Linked DNA regions of Homo sapiens: regions 2, 3 and 4 are each reported to be linked to region 1. Evidence: microRNA targets listed by miRTarBase, many of them from high-throughput screens and not tested one by one. Region 1 holds a microRNA gene; each other region holds the end of a gene's coding sequence.
Evidence for each region. The annotated mature microRNA hsa-miR-3913-5p reads UUUGGGACUGAUCUUGAUGUCU and lies in region 1 at 3,184-3,205, opposite strand. An mRNA with a match to its seed (bases 2 to 7 or 8) in the 3' UTR can be bound and repressed. Matches are read on the target gene's strand: a 7mer-m8 pairs with bases 2 to 8, a 7mer-A1 pairs with bases 2 to 7 and ends in A, and an 8mer does both.

Region 1 (4,498 bases):
TCTTGAACCCTTGACATATCTAGAAAAAGAAATTAGTTATTAACTCAAAATTGCTTCTTTGCTTACTAAATTCTCCAAAAATATTCACTACCAATCTAAACTTACCAGGGTTCCTCATTCAACAAATTATTTGGAACTCTGAGGTCTGAAATGCAACAGTTTTACCACCAACATACGGGCACTCCTGAAGCTTGTATTTTAACAACGATAATTAACAACTAGTGGACATCAATTGACAGTACGATTGGTCAACACAGCCTATTTATAAAGTTATTTCAAAAATGTTAACAAACAGTATTATTAGGTTGGTGAAAAAGTATATTCAGACTTACCAACTAAAACTTTAGCTGCTGGATTGTCAACACCAATGTTTTTTAGAATAGTGGCACCATCATTGGTTACCATAAGAGAGGCATCTCGTCCACTGCTTAGAAGAATTTTGTCCTAAAGGGAACATAATTGGTTCAAGTTAAGACATAAGCACATCTTGAAGAATGCATGGATCAATCAGTATTCTCACACAGTGCTAGTGTATAAACACTCTGGATAGCTATTTTGTGGTATCCATTCATCAAATGTTTTCAATACATACACCACGTAACCAAACCATGTATCTACCCCTAGAAACACTAGAAGCACAGGTAGACACTAGTTTTTGTTTCAACACCGTAACTGCAAAAACAATGGAAAGAAACTATCAATACAGCCATAATTAAATTATAAAATAATTAAGGTACAGGATAATATTTGACAGTTAAAGGGGCAGTGTTATCTACTTACACTGAAAGGAATTTAAAAGAGCAAGCTACAAAAAAGTATTGATAAATAGTATCTGTTTTATAAAACAGTATGTTACATGAGTATAAAATACATAATGAAGTACACATACTTCTACATAAACAGAATATTAGAAGATGTACGTGCAAATGATAACAGTACTTGTCATTGGGGAGGGGCATGGGATTGGGGATGGTGATTCTGGGGACTCTGATTTTTACTAAGGAGAACATACTTGTCTTTTATAATTAAACGTTTTAAAGATTAAAAAGCATTTTAATACGCTTGTTATTATATTTCCACCAAGCGCTCTAAAACAATATTAAAATATAAAACTTTTCTATTTTTCTTACCATGCCTTTGGGTCCCAAGGTGCTCTTTACCAAGTCTCCAATGGCGATGGCACCAATAAAAGAAGTCTGGAGTAAAAACCAAGGAGATTATCAGAATCAACTTTACAGTCTTCAAGTACAGTTTTATCTTTATTTACTTTTTTTTTTTTTTGAGGCAGAGTGTCGCTCTGTCGCCCAGGCTGGAGTGCAATGGCGCGATCTCAGCTCACTGCAACCTCCGCCTCCTGGGTTCAAGCGATCCTCCTGCCTCAGCCTCCCGAGTAGCTGGGATTACAGGTGCCCATCACCACGCCCGGCTAATTTTTGTATTTCTAGTAGAAACGGGGTTTTACCATGTTGGCCAGGCTGGTCTCGAACTCCTGACCTCAGTTCATCCGCCTACCTCGGCCTCCCAAAGTACTGGGATTACAGGAGTAAGCCACCGCGCCTGGCCTCCAGTTTTATCTTTAAAACAATGCTTAGAACAAGGCTTACCAGACGAGCTGTCTCTGCTCTCTCTTCATCAGCTCCTGCCTTAAAGATGTTAACAGGTGCAAGGGAAAGGGACGCCTGAAAAGGAAAACCAAGAGGCATTCCGTTTAAGTACCAATACTCTAACACATACACTGAGGTGCCTTCCACTAGTCTTACAAGTGGACATCTAAGAGAAAACTCATTTACAACAATGTTTTCAATCAAATGAAGCTTCCATCATCGGAGAAAGCATTTAAGTGGGAGAGAGGGACTTGTAGGAGAGCGACATGGCTTTTCGGATTTACAAGGCCCCCGGGAGTATAAATTATACACCAGCGAGATTGACAGTTACGTACAGCGAGACTAAAGACGATCTTGAACTAAGAATGAGGCAGGGAGGGGTTGCAGGCCATCAAGGTGACGCCTGCCGGGCGGGCGAGGGAACGCGGCCTCCATCTTCCACCCTCGGAAGGCTGCGGCCCCTCCACCCTCTGATGGCTCAGACCCCGTCGCTCCAGGCTCCGCCCCTAGAAGGAGGGCGGAGCGGGTCCCACACTAGAAATTTCTTCGCTCCGGGTGAGGCGCGGACCTGGGCTGCCGGGACTATGCAAAGACCTAGGCACAAGGAGACGCTGGCTTTGCGGTCCACCCCTCCCCCTCGTGGTGAGCTCCACCGGCTGGCCTGGCGCAGGCCGCACGCCCCGCGCATGGCTCGCACCATGTGCGGAGGGCCGGGGAGACAGAAACGGAGCCTACGACCCTAGCAGGACAGAGGAAGCAGTGGGGTGGCAAGAGCACGGCGGAGCAGGGGTAGGGCAAGAGGCAGGGGAGTCAGGCTCACCATGGTTCCGAGGAGTTCCGCACACAAGTGAATCCCCTCACAGCTCGTGCTCGGGACCAGCGGACTGAAGGAAGCCGGAAGTGACGCCACACGCCCTACTTCGGGGGGCGGGGCCCCGGCCTGTCGTTACCGCCAGCAGGCGTCCCATTTTGATTGGAGCCCCACGGGCCGGAAACGCAGCCTTTCACACTGGAGGGGGCGTGGCCGCCGCTCCAGAACAAAGAGGCGGCTGCCGCGCGGGTTGCCATAGAAATGGAGTTCTTGCTCACACTTTTTATTTTCTTAAATTTAATCTTTAAACACTTCTATTAAAGTCACACATGTACACAGTTTAAAGTGTTATATACCAATAAGGAAAAACATAATTTATCTGCCTCACCACTTCCTGTCTCCAGGAAAACTGCTTTCAACTTTTTCAGTTTTTTGGAGGGGCTATTTACTATCATATTCCCAGATAATATTATTGCTATGTTAATTTTAAACATTATTTACTGAGTATTACAGAAGAAGACTTCCTTTTCTCTTACTGAATTTTCAGACGTTATTTCTAACTGGACGTTGACTGCCCAGGATAAGGTCTTGTGAACTGAGAGAGACATTTATAGTATTTTATCTTTGCCCTATTTACTCATTTTCAGGAATTTTTGCATTTCGGTCTTTTTTTTTTTTTTCCTCCAATAGTAGAGACGACTTATTAGTCTTTGTTTATAATAAACTGAAATATTTGGGACTGATCTTGATGTCTGCCAAAACCTTGGCAGACATCAAGATCAGTCCCAAATATTTCAGTTTATTATAGACAGTTTTCTACTTTCTCTAAGTTGACGGATGTCTAAAAATTTGTTCTCTAAAAAATTTTTCTGTCATCTACTGATACCCTCTTTTCTCCCTTTGACTAACTGATCGCTTAAGCTCCTCGGCAGGGCGCGGTGGCTCACCCCTGTAATCCCAGCACTTTGGGAGGCCGAGGTGGGCGGATCACCTGAGGTCAGGAGTTGGAGACCAGCCTGGCCAACATGGTGAAACCCTGTCTCTACTGAAAATACAAAAATTAGCCGGGCGTGGTGTGCATGCCCGTAATCCCAGCTACTCAGGAGGCTGAGGCAGGATAATTGCTTGAACCCGGGAGGCAGAGGTTTCAGTGAGCCGAGATCACGCCGCTGCACTCCAGCCTGGGCAACAGAGCGAGACTCTGTCTCAAAACAAAAACAAAACAAAACAAGCTCCTGGATTTTTCTTTTTCTGTTTTGTTTTTTTTAGAGATGGGGTCTTCTATGTTGCCCAGGCTGGCCTGGAACTCCTGGGCTCAAGCAATCTTCCTGCCTTGGTCTCCTGAGTAGCTGGGGTCTCCTGGATTTTTGACATTGCTAACATTAACAGGAATTTTCAATTTTTTAGTTGTTTCTACCCTTCAGATTTCCTCTAAGTGGGTTGATTTCCACCAGGGGTTGGCAAGCTGTGAGGAGTCAAACCCAGCCTGCCAGTTGTTTTTTGTATGGCCTGAGAGCTAAGAATAGTTTTTACATTTTTAAGTGGTTGAAAGAAATCAAAAATTTCCTGACACATGAAAATCCTGTGAAATTAATATTTCAGTGTCCATAAAGCTTCATTGGAATCCATGGGCATACCCATACATATTTACTCTGTCACAATACGATAGCAGAGTTATGTGGCAGAGTTGAGTAGTCATGACAGGTTGAATGGGCCCACAAAACCTAAAACATGTATTATCTAATTCTTTACAGAAAAAGTTTGCTGACCCTGGTTTACAGTATTCCTCAGGTCCAACATGAAAAGGGGAGTTCAGGCTGGACAAATTGTTATTTTAAATCTCCCAAGAGTTTTCTCTTCTTTGTAGGAAAATTTGGTCTTCTTTCAGGAAATGTACTTTCCTAGGCAGATCCCAAATCGCATTCTGGAATGAGAAGATTCACAATAAAAAACTAAGATGCCTGCACAATATTGAAAAAGGTTGTTTTTATTGTGGGCAAAATTACATACCTGGAGATATTTATTATGTCCTCTGGTAGGCAAGCCTGAGACTGTGTGTGATGGGGAAACCAATGACTGCTCC
Region 2 (4,000 bases), not on the chromosome of region 1:
AGACAGTAACCTCTCACTTGTCTCACCCGGCAGGTGAAGGCTGAGCTGCGGAAATACTGGGTCCGCTTCTTGCTAGCCCGCCACTCAGGCTGCAGAGCCTGTGTCCTGGGGAAGGACTTCCGGTTCCTAGGAAAATGTCCCAAGAAGCTCTCGGAAGGAGATGGCGCTGAGAAGCTTCGGAAGCTGCAGCCCTCACTTAACAGTGGGCGGCTCCTACATCTAGCCATGCGAGGTCTTGGGGAGCTGGGCGCCCAGCCCCAACAGGACCATGCACGCTGGCCCCGGGGCAGCAGCCTGTCCGAGTGCAGTGAGGGGGATGTCACCATGGCCAACACCATGGAGGAGATTCTGGAAGAGAGTGAGATCTAGGGTGGAGTTCCACCACCCTGGCTCTGCTCCCAGGGACTCTTGAGGGGGCCCAGGAAGAGGAAGCAAAGCAGGACACACGTTGCTGGGCACGGAATCATTCTCGTTCCATTCACCATGCCACTTTGATATGAAAGCTATCACAAGGTTCTTCAAGCTCTGTATGAAAGAGGCTGTGTGTCATGCTCACAGCCTCTGCCTGCTCTTCTCATCCTAATAACCCCCACCAGTGTGTTTTCCACAATGCCCACCAGACCCTAGGGCCTGGCTCTAAATTCAAGCCAATGAAGTCCCACCATGAAGAGAGGTCTCCTGTTATAGAGAAGCCAGCCAATATCTCTTCCTTTATCCCTTGGGGTGCATGCTTTCCATCTGAGGTTGGGTTTAGGGTGCGTGAAAACCTCCTAGGAAGCTTTTAAAATGCAGAATCCTAGACTTGTGGCTAAGATTCTAAGACAGTGAGTCTGGGACCATGGCCAGGAATTGGAGCTGTTTAATAAGCATCCCAGGTAATTCTGCTGCAAGCCCACCCTTGGAGAACACTGGGCAGGGTGAGAGGGAGCTAGAAGCGCCCCCATGTGGCCATGGCAGGATGCTGCAAGAGACAGTCTGCTCTCCCAGGTCAGCTGGGGTGTGCCTGCCCTCCTTGGAGAGTATGTAACTCCACCCACCAGAGTGCCACTCCTCTCTGCTCTTCCTCTCCTATCAAGTCTTGCCTCTCTCTCTCTTTGCCTCAGTTCTCTGTCCCTGCACAGCAGGAGTTCTGCTTGATCCTCCCTTTGAGGATTGGCCCCAGTGCCTGGGGACCCTCTGAATGTCGTCTTTGGTCTGTTCCTCTCCTTTCTGGCTCTATCTACCTTTCTGAGTTTGGCTTCTACCAGCCTGATTTACACTACCATTCTCTTGGGGCAAGGAATGTCCCCACCATTTTTGGTTTGCCATTGATGCATTGATTGTCACACCTGTTGTCCCAGGAAGTTGACCTATAACTCTCCATGGCCAGAGTCCCTGCTGATCAGAATTCAATTTGCCCAGTGGGAATAAATACTGAAAGCAGGAGGGCCCAGGTAAAGCAATAGGAGTTTGGCTGGATCTGGACATGCCCAGGGTGGCTCTGAGAGATCCAAGACTTTGCATCCACCAGCCTGTGGGATCTTTCCTGCCTACTGTGACCCATGGAGGCTGAGGAGGGCCCAGGCAGTTGGGGTCAGGCTCAATGACTGAAAGTATAGGGCAAGAGGCTGTAGGAAGATCAAGGGATGGACATCCTTTGGAAACAGTGTGTTAATGCACAGGAGTGTCACTTTCATGGTATGTAAAATGCATGTGTACGTGGGTGGGGTATGTTGCTATGGGACTAAATACCACCTTGTCTTCGGGGGAGTCAGTTTGATACTCCTCAAGCAGGGCTGCCATATTTAGCAAACAAAAACAAGGTACTCAATTAAATTTGAATTTCAGACAAATAGTCTTCTTGTATAAGTATATCCCATGGGCATATTTAATCTGAGATTGGAATTCAATCATGCATCTTGTCTTTTACTGGCATCTCTGTTTTCAAGGATACTTTGCCACAGGGCTGGGACTAGGGTGAAATAATCAAGGCACTCATCTCTAAAAAGCTCAAAGTAAATGATCAAAATAAATCATATTTTAATGCAATATTCTAAAAAAACAAATTAACAAACTACAGCCCATGAGCCATTTATAGAAATGAAATTTGATTGGAGCCAGGGGCAGGATAAGGGTGAGGCAGGAGAGGCCAGCTCTTGCAAGTGCAGGCTCTGGTCCTGACTTTCAAATGTTGTCTATGAGGGACTTTTAATGTGAATTTTTATTTTTAGACAATTGCATTAAAATGTTATTTATATTGACTATGGGGACTTTTGGGGCCCCCTTAAATTTTGCACTTGAAATGGGATCCCCACTTGTGTCACCCCATAGTCCAGCCCTGGTTTTAGGATGGGGATGGAGGCAAAGGCATCAGGCAAGTAATGAAGCAAAGGTTTATTTTTTGGTGTCCAGATTATCCATAGCTCAGTCATGAAAATCTATGTCTTTCTATTTTTCTCCTTTCTGCAAATGTCCCTGCCTCGGCTCATCAGCCAATTAGCTCCTAGAAAGCTGGGGTCATCTCGTATTCCCAGCAAGTACCCAGCACAGTGCCGGTTCAGAGCAGGTGCTCCACACACATTCCTGGAATGAGACAGCACAGAAATGGCTCTCGGGAGCCTCGGATGCTGCTGGGAGTAAGTGATCCAGGACCTTACCGCTAAGAGGAGAAACTTTTTTTCAAAGCATTTATAAATACTCCCTCCACCCCTCACTCCACAAATGGGGTGATCAACACTTACTGCTTGCTCTTGTTCTGCTAATGATTAAAACAAGTTTATTTAATTTCATTTGCATTTTGTTGATTCTTTTACATTTGTCTCTCACTGGAGCTGAAGGTCTCTCCCACCCATGAAGAATGCGATGCACTATTCCTGGCCAGAAGTGAGGAAAAGGGCTGTGGCGTTTAGCCAGGGACCTGGGTGCTCCAATATCTTAAATTTGGTCTTAGGGACCAGAGGAGTGGGCAGAGGGGCCGGGACCAGAAGCAGAGGTCAGAGGTCAAAAGAATGGAAGGAGAGTGTCTCCCCTTTTATAGACCACCCCATTGGTCACTCAGCTTGCCTGTTGCTTTGAAGATCTAGTCTAGTGGTTCTCAATCCTCGCATTACAATCCCTTGGGAAGCTTTTTATTTATTTTTATTTATATTTATTTATTTGAGACCCAGTCTCACTCTGTTTCCCAGGCTGGAGTGCAGTTGCATGATCTCAACTCACTGCAACCTCCACCTCCCGGGTTCAAGCAATTCTCATGCTTTAGCCTCCCGAGGAGCTGGGTCTACAGGCGTGAGCCACCAGGCCCAGCTAATTTTTTTTGTATTTTTAGTAGAGACGGGGTTTCACCATGTTGGCCAGGCTGGTCTTGAACTCCTGACCTCAGGTGATTGCCTGCCTCGGCCTCCCAGAGTGCTGGGATTACAAGTGTGAGCCACCACGCCCAGCCCCCTGGGAAGCTTTTTTAAAAGACCAGTGACAGGGTCTGACCCCAGAGGTTCTGATTGAAATGGTCTTACTAGACCTGGGCATTGGGATTTTTATAAGTTCCTGAGTGATCTTTTTTAAATTGTGGCAAAATATATATAACATAAAATTAACCATTGTAGCCATCTTTTTTTCTTTTTGTTTTTTGAGACAGAGTCTTGCTCTGTCACCAGGCTGGAGTGCAGTGCTGTGATCTCGGCTCACCGCAACCTCCACCTCCCAGGTTCAGGCAATTCTTCTGCCTCTGCCTCCCGAGTAGCTGGGACTACAGGCGCCTGCCACCACTCCTGGCTAATTTTTGTATTTTTAGTAGAGATGGGGTTTCACCATATTGGTCAGGCTGGTCTCAAACTCCTGACCCCAGGTGATCCACGCGCCTTGGCCTCCCAAAGTGCTGGGATTACAGGCGTGAGCCACCGCGCCCGGCCAGCCATTATTAAGTGTATGGTTCAGTGGCATGAAGTACCTTCTTACTGTTGTGCAGCCGTCACCACCATCCATCTCCAGGACTCTTTCATCTTCCTGAACTGAAACTCTACAT
Region 3 (4,000 bases), not on the chromosome of region 1:
CCCCGCCTCTTCATGCAACCTAAAAGTAACCAACTCCCCCCACGCGAAGGTTCCTATCGGTCGACGGGCTGTGGGTGTATTGCTCAGTGACGGCTTCGTTTAGTTTCTCCCAGCACCCATAATTCAAAGCAAGAACAACGACATTATGGGGAGAAAACGTCCTTTTGTGAAACAGAAGGCAGTAAGTACAGCTCGTAGGCAGCCCACACTCACCTGACCTTCCTGTTACCACTTTATACTGAGATGAGAGTAATGAAAGCCCGGACAACACTGAAGCTATGAAGTAAAAAAGAAAAAGCTACTCCATCTTTCCCTGTCTAGCTAGATGTGGGAAGCAAAGTGAATTTACTTCATTTTTACCATTCTAATTTTCTTTTGTTTTTGAGATGGGGTCTAACTGTCGCCCACGTTGGAGTGTAGTGGCGCGATCACGACTTACTGCAGCCTCGACCTCCCGGGTTCAAGCGGTCCTCCCACCTCAGCCTCCCAAAGTGCTGGGATTACAGATGTGAACCACCACGCCTGGCTTAATGAAGGGGTTTTAAATTTTTGCTATTAAAATTATTCCTGTTGAGCGAGCCGAGATCTCGCCACTGCACTCCAGCCTGGGCGATAGAGCGAGACCTTGTCTCAAAAAAATAAATAAATAAATAAATATTCTGAGTGAAATAATTGGCATTAAAAAGTCCTCAACTTTTAAAAATCCTGTTAACAAAAAAGATGCAGTAGGCCTCTAGGTCAGGCACCAGCTGTCGGTAAAAGACGGAATAGAGCTGAGGATACAAAGATTAGTCTACTTAAAAAGTTAGGCTTTAGTCCCCTCTCCTGATAGCTCTATGCCTCTCATTGCAAGGATGACAATGTACAGGGCACAGAAAATGATAGATAATAATAGTTTAAAGCTGAGCCACCACCTTTAATCAGAGATCAAAGCCATTTAAATACTTGAACAGAGTTGAAGCCCTTAAGGCTGGATCCCAATTCCCTCTGAACTCATTTTAAATCCTAATTAACTCTTGGGGTAGGGGATTATTTGACCTTATTAAAAATAACTTTATCATGACACAAACGAAAACAAAACACATTTTGTGAGTGGTTTGAAAGTCTATCAAGTGACTTTAGAATCATCCTGAACTCTTTTTCTCTCTTATCCTAGATCCACACCATTAGTAAACCCCATCAATTTTGCCTTCAGAATATATCCAGATTCTTCCCAATTCTACCGCCACCATTCTGGTTCAAGCTACCTGGTGAGTTTGCACCTGGAATACTACAATACCTTCCTCTCTGGTCTCCCTGCTTCTACTCTTGCCTCTCATGTACATGTTATCTCAGTGCAGCAACTACAGCAATCCTAAATAAGGCAGATCATACCATTTATTCTCAGAAACCTTCACTGGCTCCTTACCTCAAAGTAAAAGCCCAGGTCATTAGAAAAACCTCAGTAAGTTCATTTCCTATTACTCTCCTAGCTCATCCTGTCAGCCATACTAGTCTTCTTGCTTTTCCTTGAATATACTAAGCTCCTGTCTGGACCTTAACCTCCTCCACCTGGAACTCTCTTCCCGATATGTATTTTCATCCTCATTCCCTCACCTTCTTCAGGTCTTTGCTCAAGTTTACCTATCAGTGAGATCTTTTCTGACAACCCTATTAAAAATAGCAAGCCTCCCCCCAACTCCCTGTCCCTGCACTATTTATTCCCTTCCCTTCTTTATTTTCCGTCGTTACACGTATCACCATCAGATATGCAGTTTTATTGCCTTGCTTACTAACATTGTACAATCCCCTCCTCTCCACCAATATGTGCTCCACAGAGGGGTAAGGGCTTTGTTTTGCTTACTGGTATATTCCAAGTGCTTAGAACAGTTGCTGGCACATGGTGGGTACTCAATATTTTGTGATTGAATGAATTAATGAGTGAATGATGTAATGAAAAGATAAGCATCTTTGTCAATGTTAGAAACATTTACTTCTGACGATAATCCATATAGCTTTCTCTGATGTTACACAGCGATTACATCTCCTTGTGTCTAAATTAAAGTCAAAGTATGAATTTTAAGATGATTTTTAATTATTTAACAAGTAGAAATACGATCAGTGACAATTATCAATTAAAACATTAAACAACCCAGTTACCTTTTCTTAACAGTCATGATGAAATATCCCTTTCCTGTCTTATCAGAAGCCTTAATTATTCTCTACCACACACACCACAAAAGCTTCTTAATAGAGCATCAGTGTCCATCACACCTTTGTGTAGAATCTCTGGCAACAAGGTGCTGTCTCCTCTTGCCCTGCCCCCACATCTGCTTAACTACTCTTCTTTCTGGAATGCCTCTTTTGCTCCCATTTTGTGAGCTCCTGCAGATGTGTTTAAGGTCCAGCTCAGTGACTACCTCCTAGAGCCTTGCTTGACCACTTAAACATACAAACTAAAAGCACAATGTGGTCATTTCGGAAAGATGATTGATAAATTCTCAAGCCACAATGTCTAGTTTTTAAAAAATGCAAGCAGGGAGGAACAGAAGTGACATATCAAGAAATTAAAAACACAAATTATAGATTGAAAAGACTATAGTAATAAAAAAATTCAATTTCACACTAAAATATTTAGTGTTACAGAGAAGGAACCAAATTCTAGCCTTTATATTTTGTCTTAAATATAAAGAAAAGCTTTATATTTATAGAAATGTTTTTAAGTTTGGTAAATAATTACTACTAAAAATTTTTAGAGATAAGACATTTCTGGTTAAATAACATGAAGCATATACACAAAGATAATATGACAAGCCCTTCTTAGTCTTCTACTTATGTCGTATTTTTTATTACTCACAATGGGGCCTCAATATTTAAGAATTAAATATGTAATACCAAATGAAGGAAACTGACAATTCAGTGAATAACTAAACTGAAAACACTTCACATGAAATAAAAATTTAAAGAGTTAAGGAAGATTATTCCTGAGTAGGCTTTCAACATTATTTCTTGAAGAATATTATGTTTACACCAATATATAAAAAAGGACTGTTATGAAAAATAATTTTATGCAAATATTCTGACACCATTCCCTTTAACCAGGAGACCATACAAGTCACATAAAAGTCTAAGCAGGTAAAAGGAATGGAAATTGTTTCATTTAAATTATTTCTTAAAAATTAAGGTGTATTTTTTATTTTAGCAATGTGCTGCTCTAATTAAAGCAATAATTTACATATGCATGGCACCCACAAAGAACATTGCTGATAAAATTTTAAATGTTTCCATGATCAGTTTCCATTACCCTCTTCTAATAAACATAAACAAAGATCTCAAAGGTATTATATAATAGTGCCACATGAGAAGTAGAATTTATGGAAAACTTGACCTATGTCACCTTTTTTATATTCATTTTCACTGCTAAAAAAATAAACTAGCATCATTTGTACAGTACAAATAAAATTAAAGAACTAATGCTATTTGGGAAACAACTGTCAAGAGCTTTCCTTTTTTTTAATCCTTTAAATCTAAATATATAAATTCAAAGTTAACTGGGAAACTGTTACACCTATATTAGAATACATAATTTATATTTGCATGAACATGTATTCTATTTCTTCTGTACATGTTTGCACATTAGCACAAAAATACAAAACAAAGATCAGATTTTGAACATATGAAAGCAAAAACATGTTTTCAAATACATTTGTAATAGTGGATTTCTGGTCTCCTTTAGAAAACAAACTCAAGAATTCGTTATCTCAGTCTCTTCAAGGCCACTTGATGTTGTGTGGTAATATCTTTAATTACATTTCCTCAAGACTTCTTCTAATAGCTTCTTCTAATTCCACATCTGCATTAAAAAACATAGAATTTTAACACTTAGGGCAGAAAACTCAACATGTGCTGTATTTATTTAAGTTTCATCGACTGTATTCTTTTCAAGAAGGAAAGTAAAATCAAAATGGAAAAACACAGGATAACTTGGCAGTTTCTCTACTAAAAAATTGAGTATTTTGAA
Region 4 (4,000 bases), not on the chromosome of region 1:
GCTTGAACCAGGGAGGCAGAGGTTGCAGTGAGCCGAGATTGCGCCAATGCACTCCAGCGTGGGCGACAGAGCAAGACTCCATTGCAAAAAAAAAAAAAAAAAAATTATATATGGCCAGGCAGAGTGGCTCACACTTGTAATCCCAGCGCTTTGGGAGGCTGAGGCAGAAGGACCGCTTGAGGCCAGGTGTTTGAGACCAGCCTAGGAAACAAAGCAAAAAAAAAAAAGCCAGGTGTGGTGGTGCATAGCTGCAGTCCCAGCTACTCAGGAGGCTGAGGTGGGAGAATTGCATGAGCCAAAGAGTTCAAGGCTGCAGTGAGCTATGATTGTGCCACTGCATGATGGGCGACAGAGTGAGACACTGTCTCAAAGGCAAAACAAAATGAAACGAACACACACACACACACACACATATATGCACAGAGAAAGGAGGTCTGGAAAGATATATACCTAATTTTAAAGGAGTAGGGCCTGGTGAGATTTTTTTTTTAACTTTCTGCATTCCAACTTATTTTGTAATTTCCAACACACACACACACACACACACACACACACACACACACACACACACACACACACCAGACAGGAAAAAAATTCTCAAATTCTCTCTGGCCTGAATATTTCATAGGACTTTGAAAGTCATTAAACTGAATAGAAGAGGTGGTTAATTCTTCTGGCAAGTGTGAGAATTTCCATACCCAGTGTTTCTTTTTGAGAGAGGCTGTAGGAGAGAAGAGATGGAGAATGAATTGCTCCAGCATTACTCATTCTCAGCACATCCAAACAGGTAGTCTCATTCTTGTCCCTGTCACCACTACAGCCCTGACACAGAGTCACAGAGAAACTCTTTGATAAATGTCAACTGAAATTGAGTAATCATCTGAAAGCCATTTGCTGAGCTGTCTGACTGCCCTGGGCTCGAGGTTTTCCTTTATTCATTTATCATGATACAGCTTTGGCCAACATACACACAGGAGAGAAATTGTTGACATGTGGAACCCAAGTACAGAAAATCTTTCATTTTCCTCCCTGTCTGTTCACCAAATAAGTTTTTGTTTATTTAAAGACTACAGAGGATTTGGCTGTTAAGAACCAAATGCCTTTGGAGTGGAATTACAACATAATTTATCATTTCCTCTGTTTATTAAAAAATCCTGCATCTTTGAGAAGCACATTTGCAGTGAGTGGGGGATTTCGGCCACTCATGAAAGACTGTTGCAAAGCCCCTGTCATGTGGCTTACCCCAAAAGAGGCTCCTTAATTGCTCTATCTATCCCTGCTCTTCCCCCAGCTGACTTCTGATCATGTGATGACCACTTAGGGCTGGTGGATGGGGTTAGAGGACAGGTAAGTGGGGCAGGAGACTGTGTTAGTTTAACTTTGACCCAATTTTGACCTTGAATCCTCACTGCATGTTTCACCAGTGTAAGTAAAGAGGGAAGTGCAACCCTTATTACCTCCAGCACAGGAGAGAATCTGGAGGAAGTCAAAGAGCAAAGAGAAGTTGGATGTTGCTTTGAAAGAACTCAGCCAGGCCTTGCCACCACCAAAGTGGGCTCCATTCTGAAAGCAGACACCTTGCAGAACTGGAATGAACTTCCTACTTTTCCACCCAATAGATTATTATAGACAGCAATTTAGTTCAGTGCACTATGTACCCCCCCAAAACAGGGGTCATATCTTTCCCATTTTTGTATTGCCAGTACATAGTTCAGCACCTGACAAACAATTGGTGCTCACTAAATGCTAATGAAGGCAGCAGGACACAGTGGTTCCTTCCAGATTGGTGAGGTGCTGAGAGAGTGTGAGCCCAGAGAAGGCATGGAAGCTCCACACCCTCTCCCTCTCCCTCAACCTTGCCCTGTGTACCTCCTTCATTGGGCTGTTCAGCTGTATCTTTTATAATAAACCAGTGAACGTGTTTCCCTGAGTTGTGTGAGCTGTCCTAGGAAATTAACTGAACCAAAGGAAATCAAGGACTCTAGTTTGTAGTTGGTCAGTCAGGAGTATGGGTGGCCCAGACTCATGACTGGCATCAAAAGTGTTGGCAGTCTTGGGAGATGGAGCCCTCAACCTGTGGGATCTGACACTATTTCCAGGTAATGTCAGAAATGAATTGAATTATAGGATACCCAGTTGGTGTCTGCTGGAGAATTGCTTGGTGTGTGGGGGAAACAAACTCACACACCTTGTCACAGAAGTGTTCCATGTTGAGTGTGAAAGTACAAAAGGAAAAAAAGTTTGTTTTTTTCCTTTTACATTAGCACATCAGGCCTCAATTTGAATGCCAGCTCTGCTACTTGCTAGGTGTGTAACCCTGCACAAGAAACTTCACCTCTATGTAAATGACGCTGACAATGAATCATGAAAACCTTCTACCACTGATCAGCTTTGCTTTGTTACTTTGGGCAAATTACCTAATACTGTCAAGACTTAGTTTTCCTATTTGTAAATGAAGATAATACACATCTCTTAAGTTTACTGTCAAGATTATAAATAATGCCTAGAACTATACCTAACTCATAATGGCTATATTAGGAATGAATGAATGAATAAAAAATAATTGGAGGGAAAAAAACCTAATAACCCAGTATCCGAAGATAAGCCACAATAAACTACTTGTCTGTCAACAATGGGCAGGCCCTGCAGGAAAGGTATGTCACTACCAAGTAAATGTTGAGAACAAGTACAAGAGTGGAAAATGATAGAAAGGGAGTGTTAAGACTAGAAAGAAAAGAAGTCAGCATTTGCTGGGTAGCTACTATGTGCAATTTATTCACGATACAACATATGACTGCCTACTATGCTCCAGGCATTACACAAAGTTCTGAGGATATACAGGCTAATTAAGTGCAACAAGAATACTTAGAATTCGTACAAAGCAGTAGACTGTGCTATGAGAGCCGGTAATGAGGGTCCTAGGTTAGAGGGGAAAAGAAGACTTCCCAGAGGACGTGATATCCAAGACAAGGCCTGATGATAAACAGGACTGGCCAGGTAAGGAGGGGAAGAGAGAGCCAGGCAGAGAAAACAGCATGTGTGAAGACGACTCACAGGCAAAACTACTGTTATGGGTGCCTCACATACAGATCCTCAGTGATCATCAATCCAGACCAACTCTATTCTTTCCTTTGTGGTTGTTATTCCTTCCAATTTATTTAGATTTTATTGTTTAGTGAAAATGGGCCTCTAGTAAAGTGTCCAGTCACAGGTGAAGGCCAATATCAGAGTTTTAAAATGGGAACAGAGCCTAATTATTTGAAAAGGAGACTCCTAAGATGAGGAGCAGGTGGTACTAAGCCTGCCAATGGCCTCAGTCCCTTGGCAACATCAAGTCAAAGCAAATGCCTGAGTACAGGCCTTTTGCCAGCAGCAAGTATTTTCTGAGAGCCACCCACCGGCCCAGAGCAGAAGCAGGAAGAGAATGAACATGTCTGAGTGTTCCCCTGGAAGGCTGGGCCTTACAAGGACAGGCTTCTGTCAGCATGGTGACAGTCTTCTGTGTAGATGGGGGAGGGAGAGAAGTCCCAATGTGCCACCCATGGGATCCAGCAGAAACTGGGCTCTGGAGTATTGCTGGCCCCAGTGGACTTTCATCCAAGGAGTTCTTTGGTCTTCACTGCCAGATGCCTGTCCAGTTCTGCCACTGTGTCATCGGCCATTTGGCTGATCTGCAAGAACACAAAATGAGACAGCCTGATTAATGGGGCTGGAAAAGGGTAGGGGGATGAATATTCCAGAAACATGAAAAGGTTATGTGAGAAATAATAATAGTGACAAAAGTTCACATTAAGTACCAGTCAGGCACTGTACTAAGAACTTTATATATACATTCTTTTTTTTTTTTTGAGACAAAGTCTCGCTCTGTCGCCCAGGCTGGAGTGCAGTGGTGCAATCTCGGCTCACTGCAAGCTCCGCCTCCTGTGTTCACGCCATTCTCCTGCCTCAGCCTCCCGAGTAGCTGGGACTACAGGTGCCCGCCACCGCGCCCGGCTAATTT

Region 2: the mRNA of GLP2R is a reported target of hsa-miR-3913-5p. The part of its 3' UTR that is shown has no 7-base or 8-base seed match.
Region 3: miRTarBase lists ZNF451 as a target of hsa-miR-3913-5p. Seed matches in the 3' UTR shown: 7mer-A1 at 3,459-3,465.
Region 4: miRTarBase lists MRRF as a target of hsa-miR-3913-5p. Seed matches in the 3' UTR shown: 7mer-A1 at 150-156.

Annotation. Positions count from the first base shown.
Region 1 is chr12:69,583,451-69,587,948 of GRCh38, reverse strand. MIR3913-2 (microRNA 3913-2) reads right to left here and starts at 3,226; the gene lies at 3,127-3,226. It overlaps CCT2 (chaperonin containing TCP1 subunit 2), which reads right to left and starts at 2,490. Exons shown (of 16, transcript NM_006431.3): 1 at 2,425-2,490; 2 at 1,605-1,679; 3 at 1,131-1,196; 4 at 333-444; 5 at 1-19. The coding sequence starts at 2,427. MIR3913-1 (microRNA 3913-1) reads left to right here and starts at 3,126; the gene lies at 3,126-3,227. RefSeq lists an enhancer at 2,120-2,459.
Region 2 is chr17:9,889,337-9,893,336 of GRCh38, forward strand. GLP2R (glucagon like peptide 2 receptor) reads left to right here. Exons shown (of 13, transcript NM_004246.3): 13 at 34-2,763. The coding sequence ends at 369. Among named protein-coding and RNA genes, the nearest start is that of RCVRN, 14 kb to the right of the region's middle.
Region 3 is chr6:57,168,255-57,172,254 of GRCh38, reverse strand. ZNF451 (zinc finger protein 451) reads right to left here. Exons shown (of 15, transcript NM_001031623.3): 15 at 1,950-3,832. The coding sequence ends at 3,786. It overlaps ZNF451-AS1 (ZNF451 regulatory antisense RNA 1), which reads left to right and starts at 42. Exons shown (of 4, transcript NR_110742.1): 1 at 42-181; 2 at 1,157-1,250.
Region 4 is chr9:122,322,211-122,326,210 of GRCh38, reverse strand. MRRF (mitochondrial ribosome recycling factor) reads right to left here. Exons shown (of 7, transcript NM_138777.5): 7 at 1-3,671. The coding sequence ends at 3,594. Among named protein-coding and RNA genes, the nearest start is that of PTGS1, 47 kb to the left of the region's middle.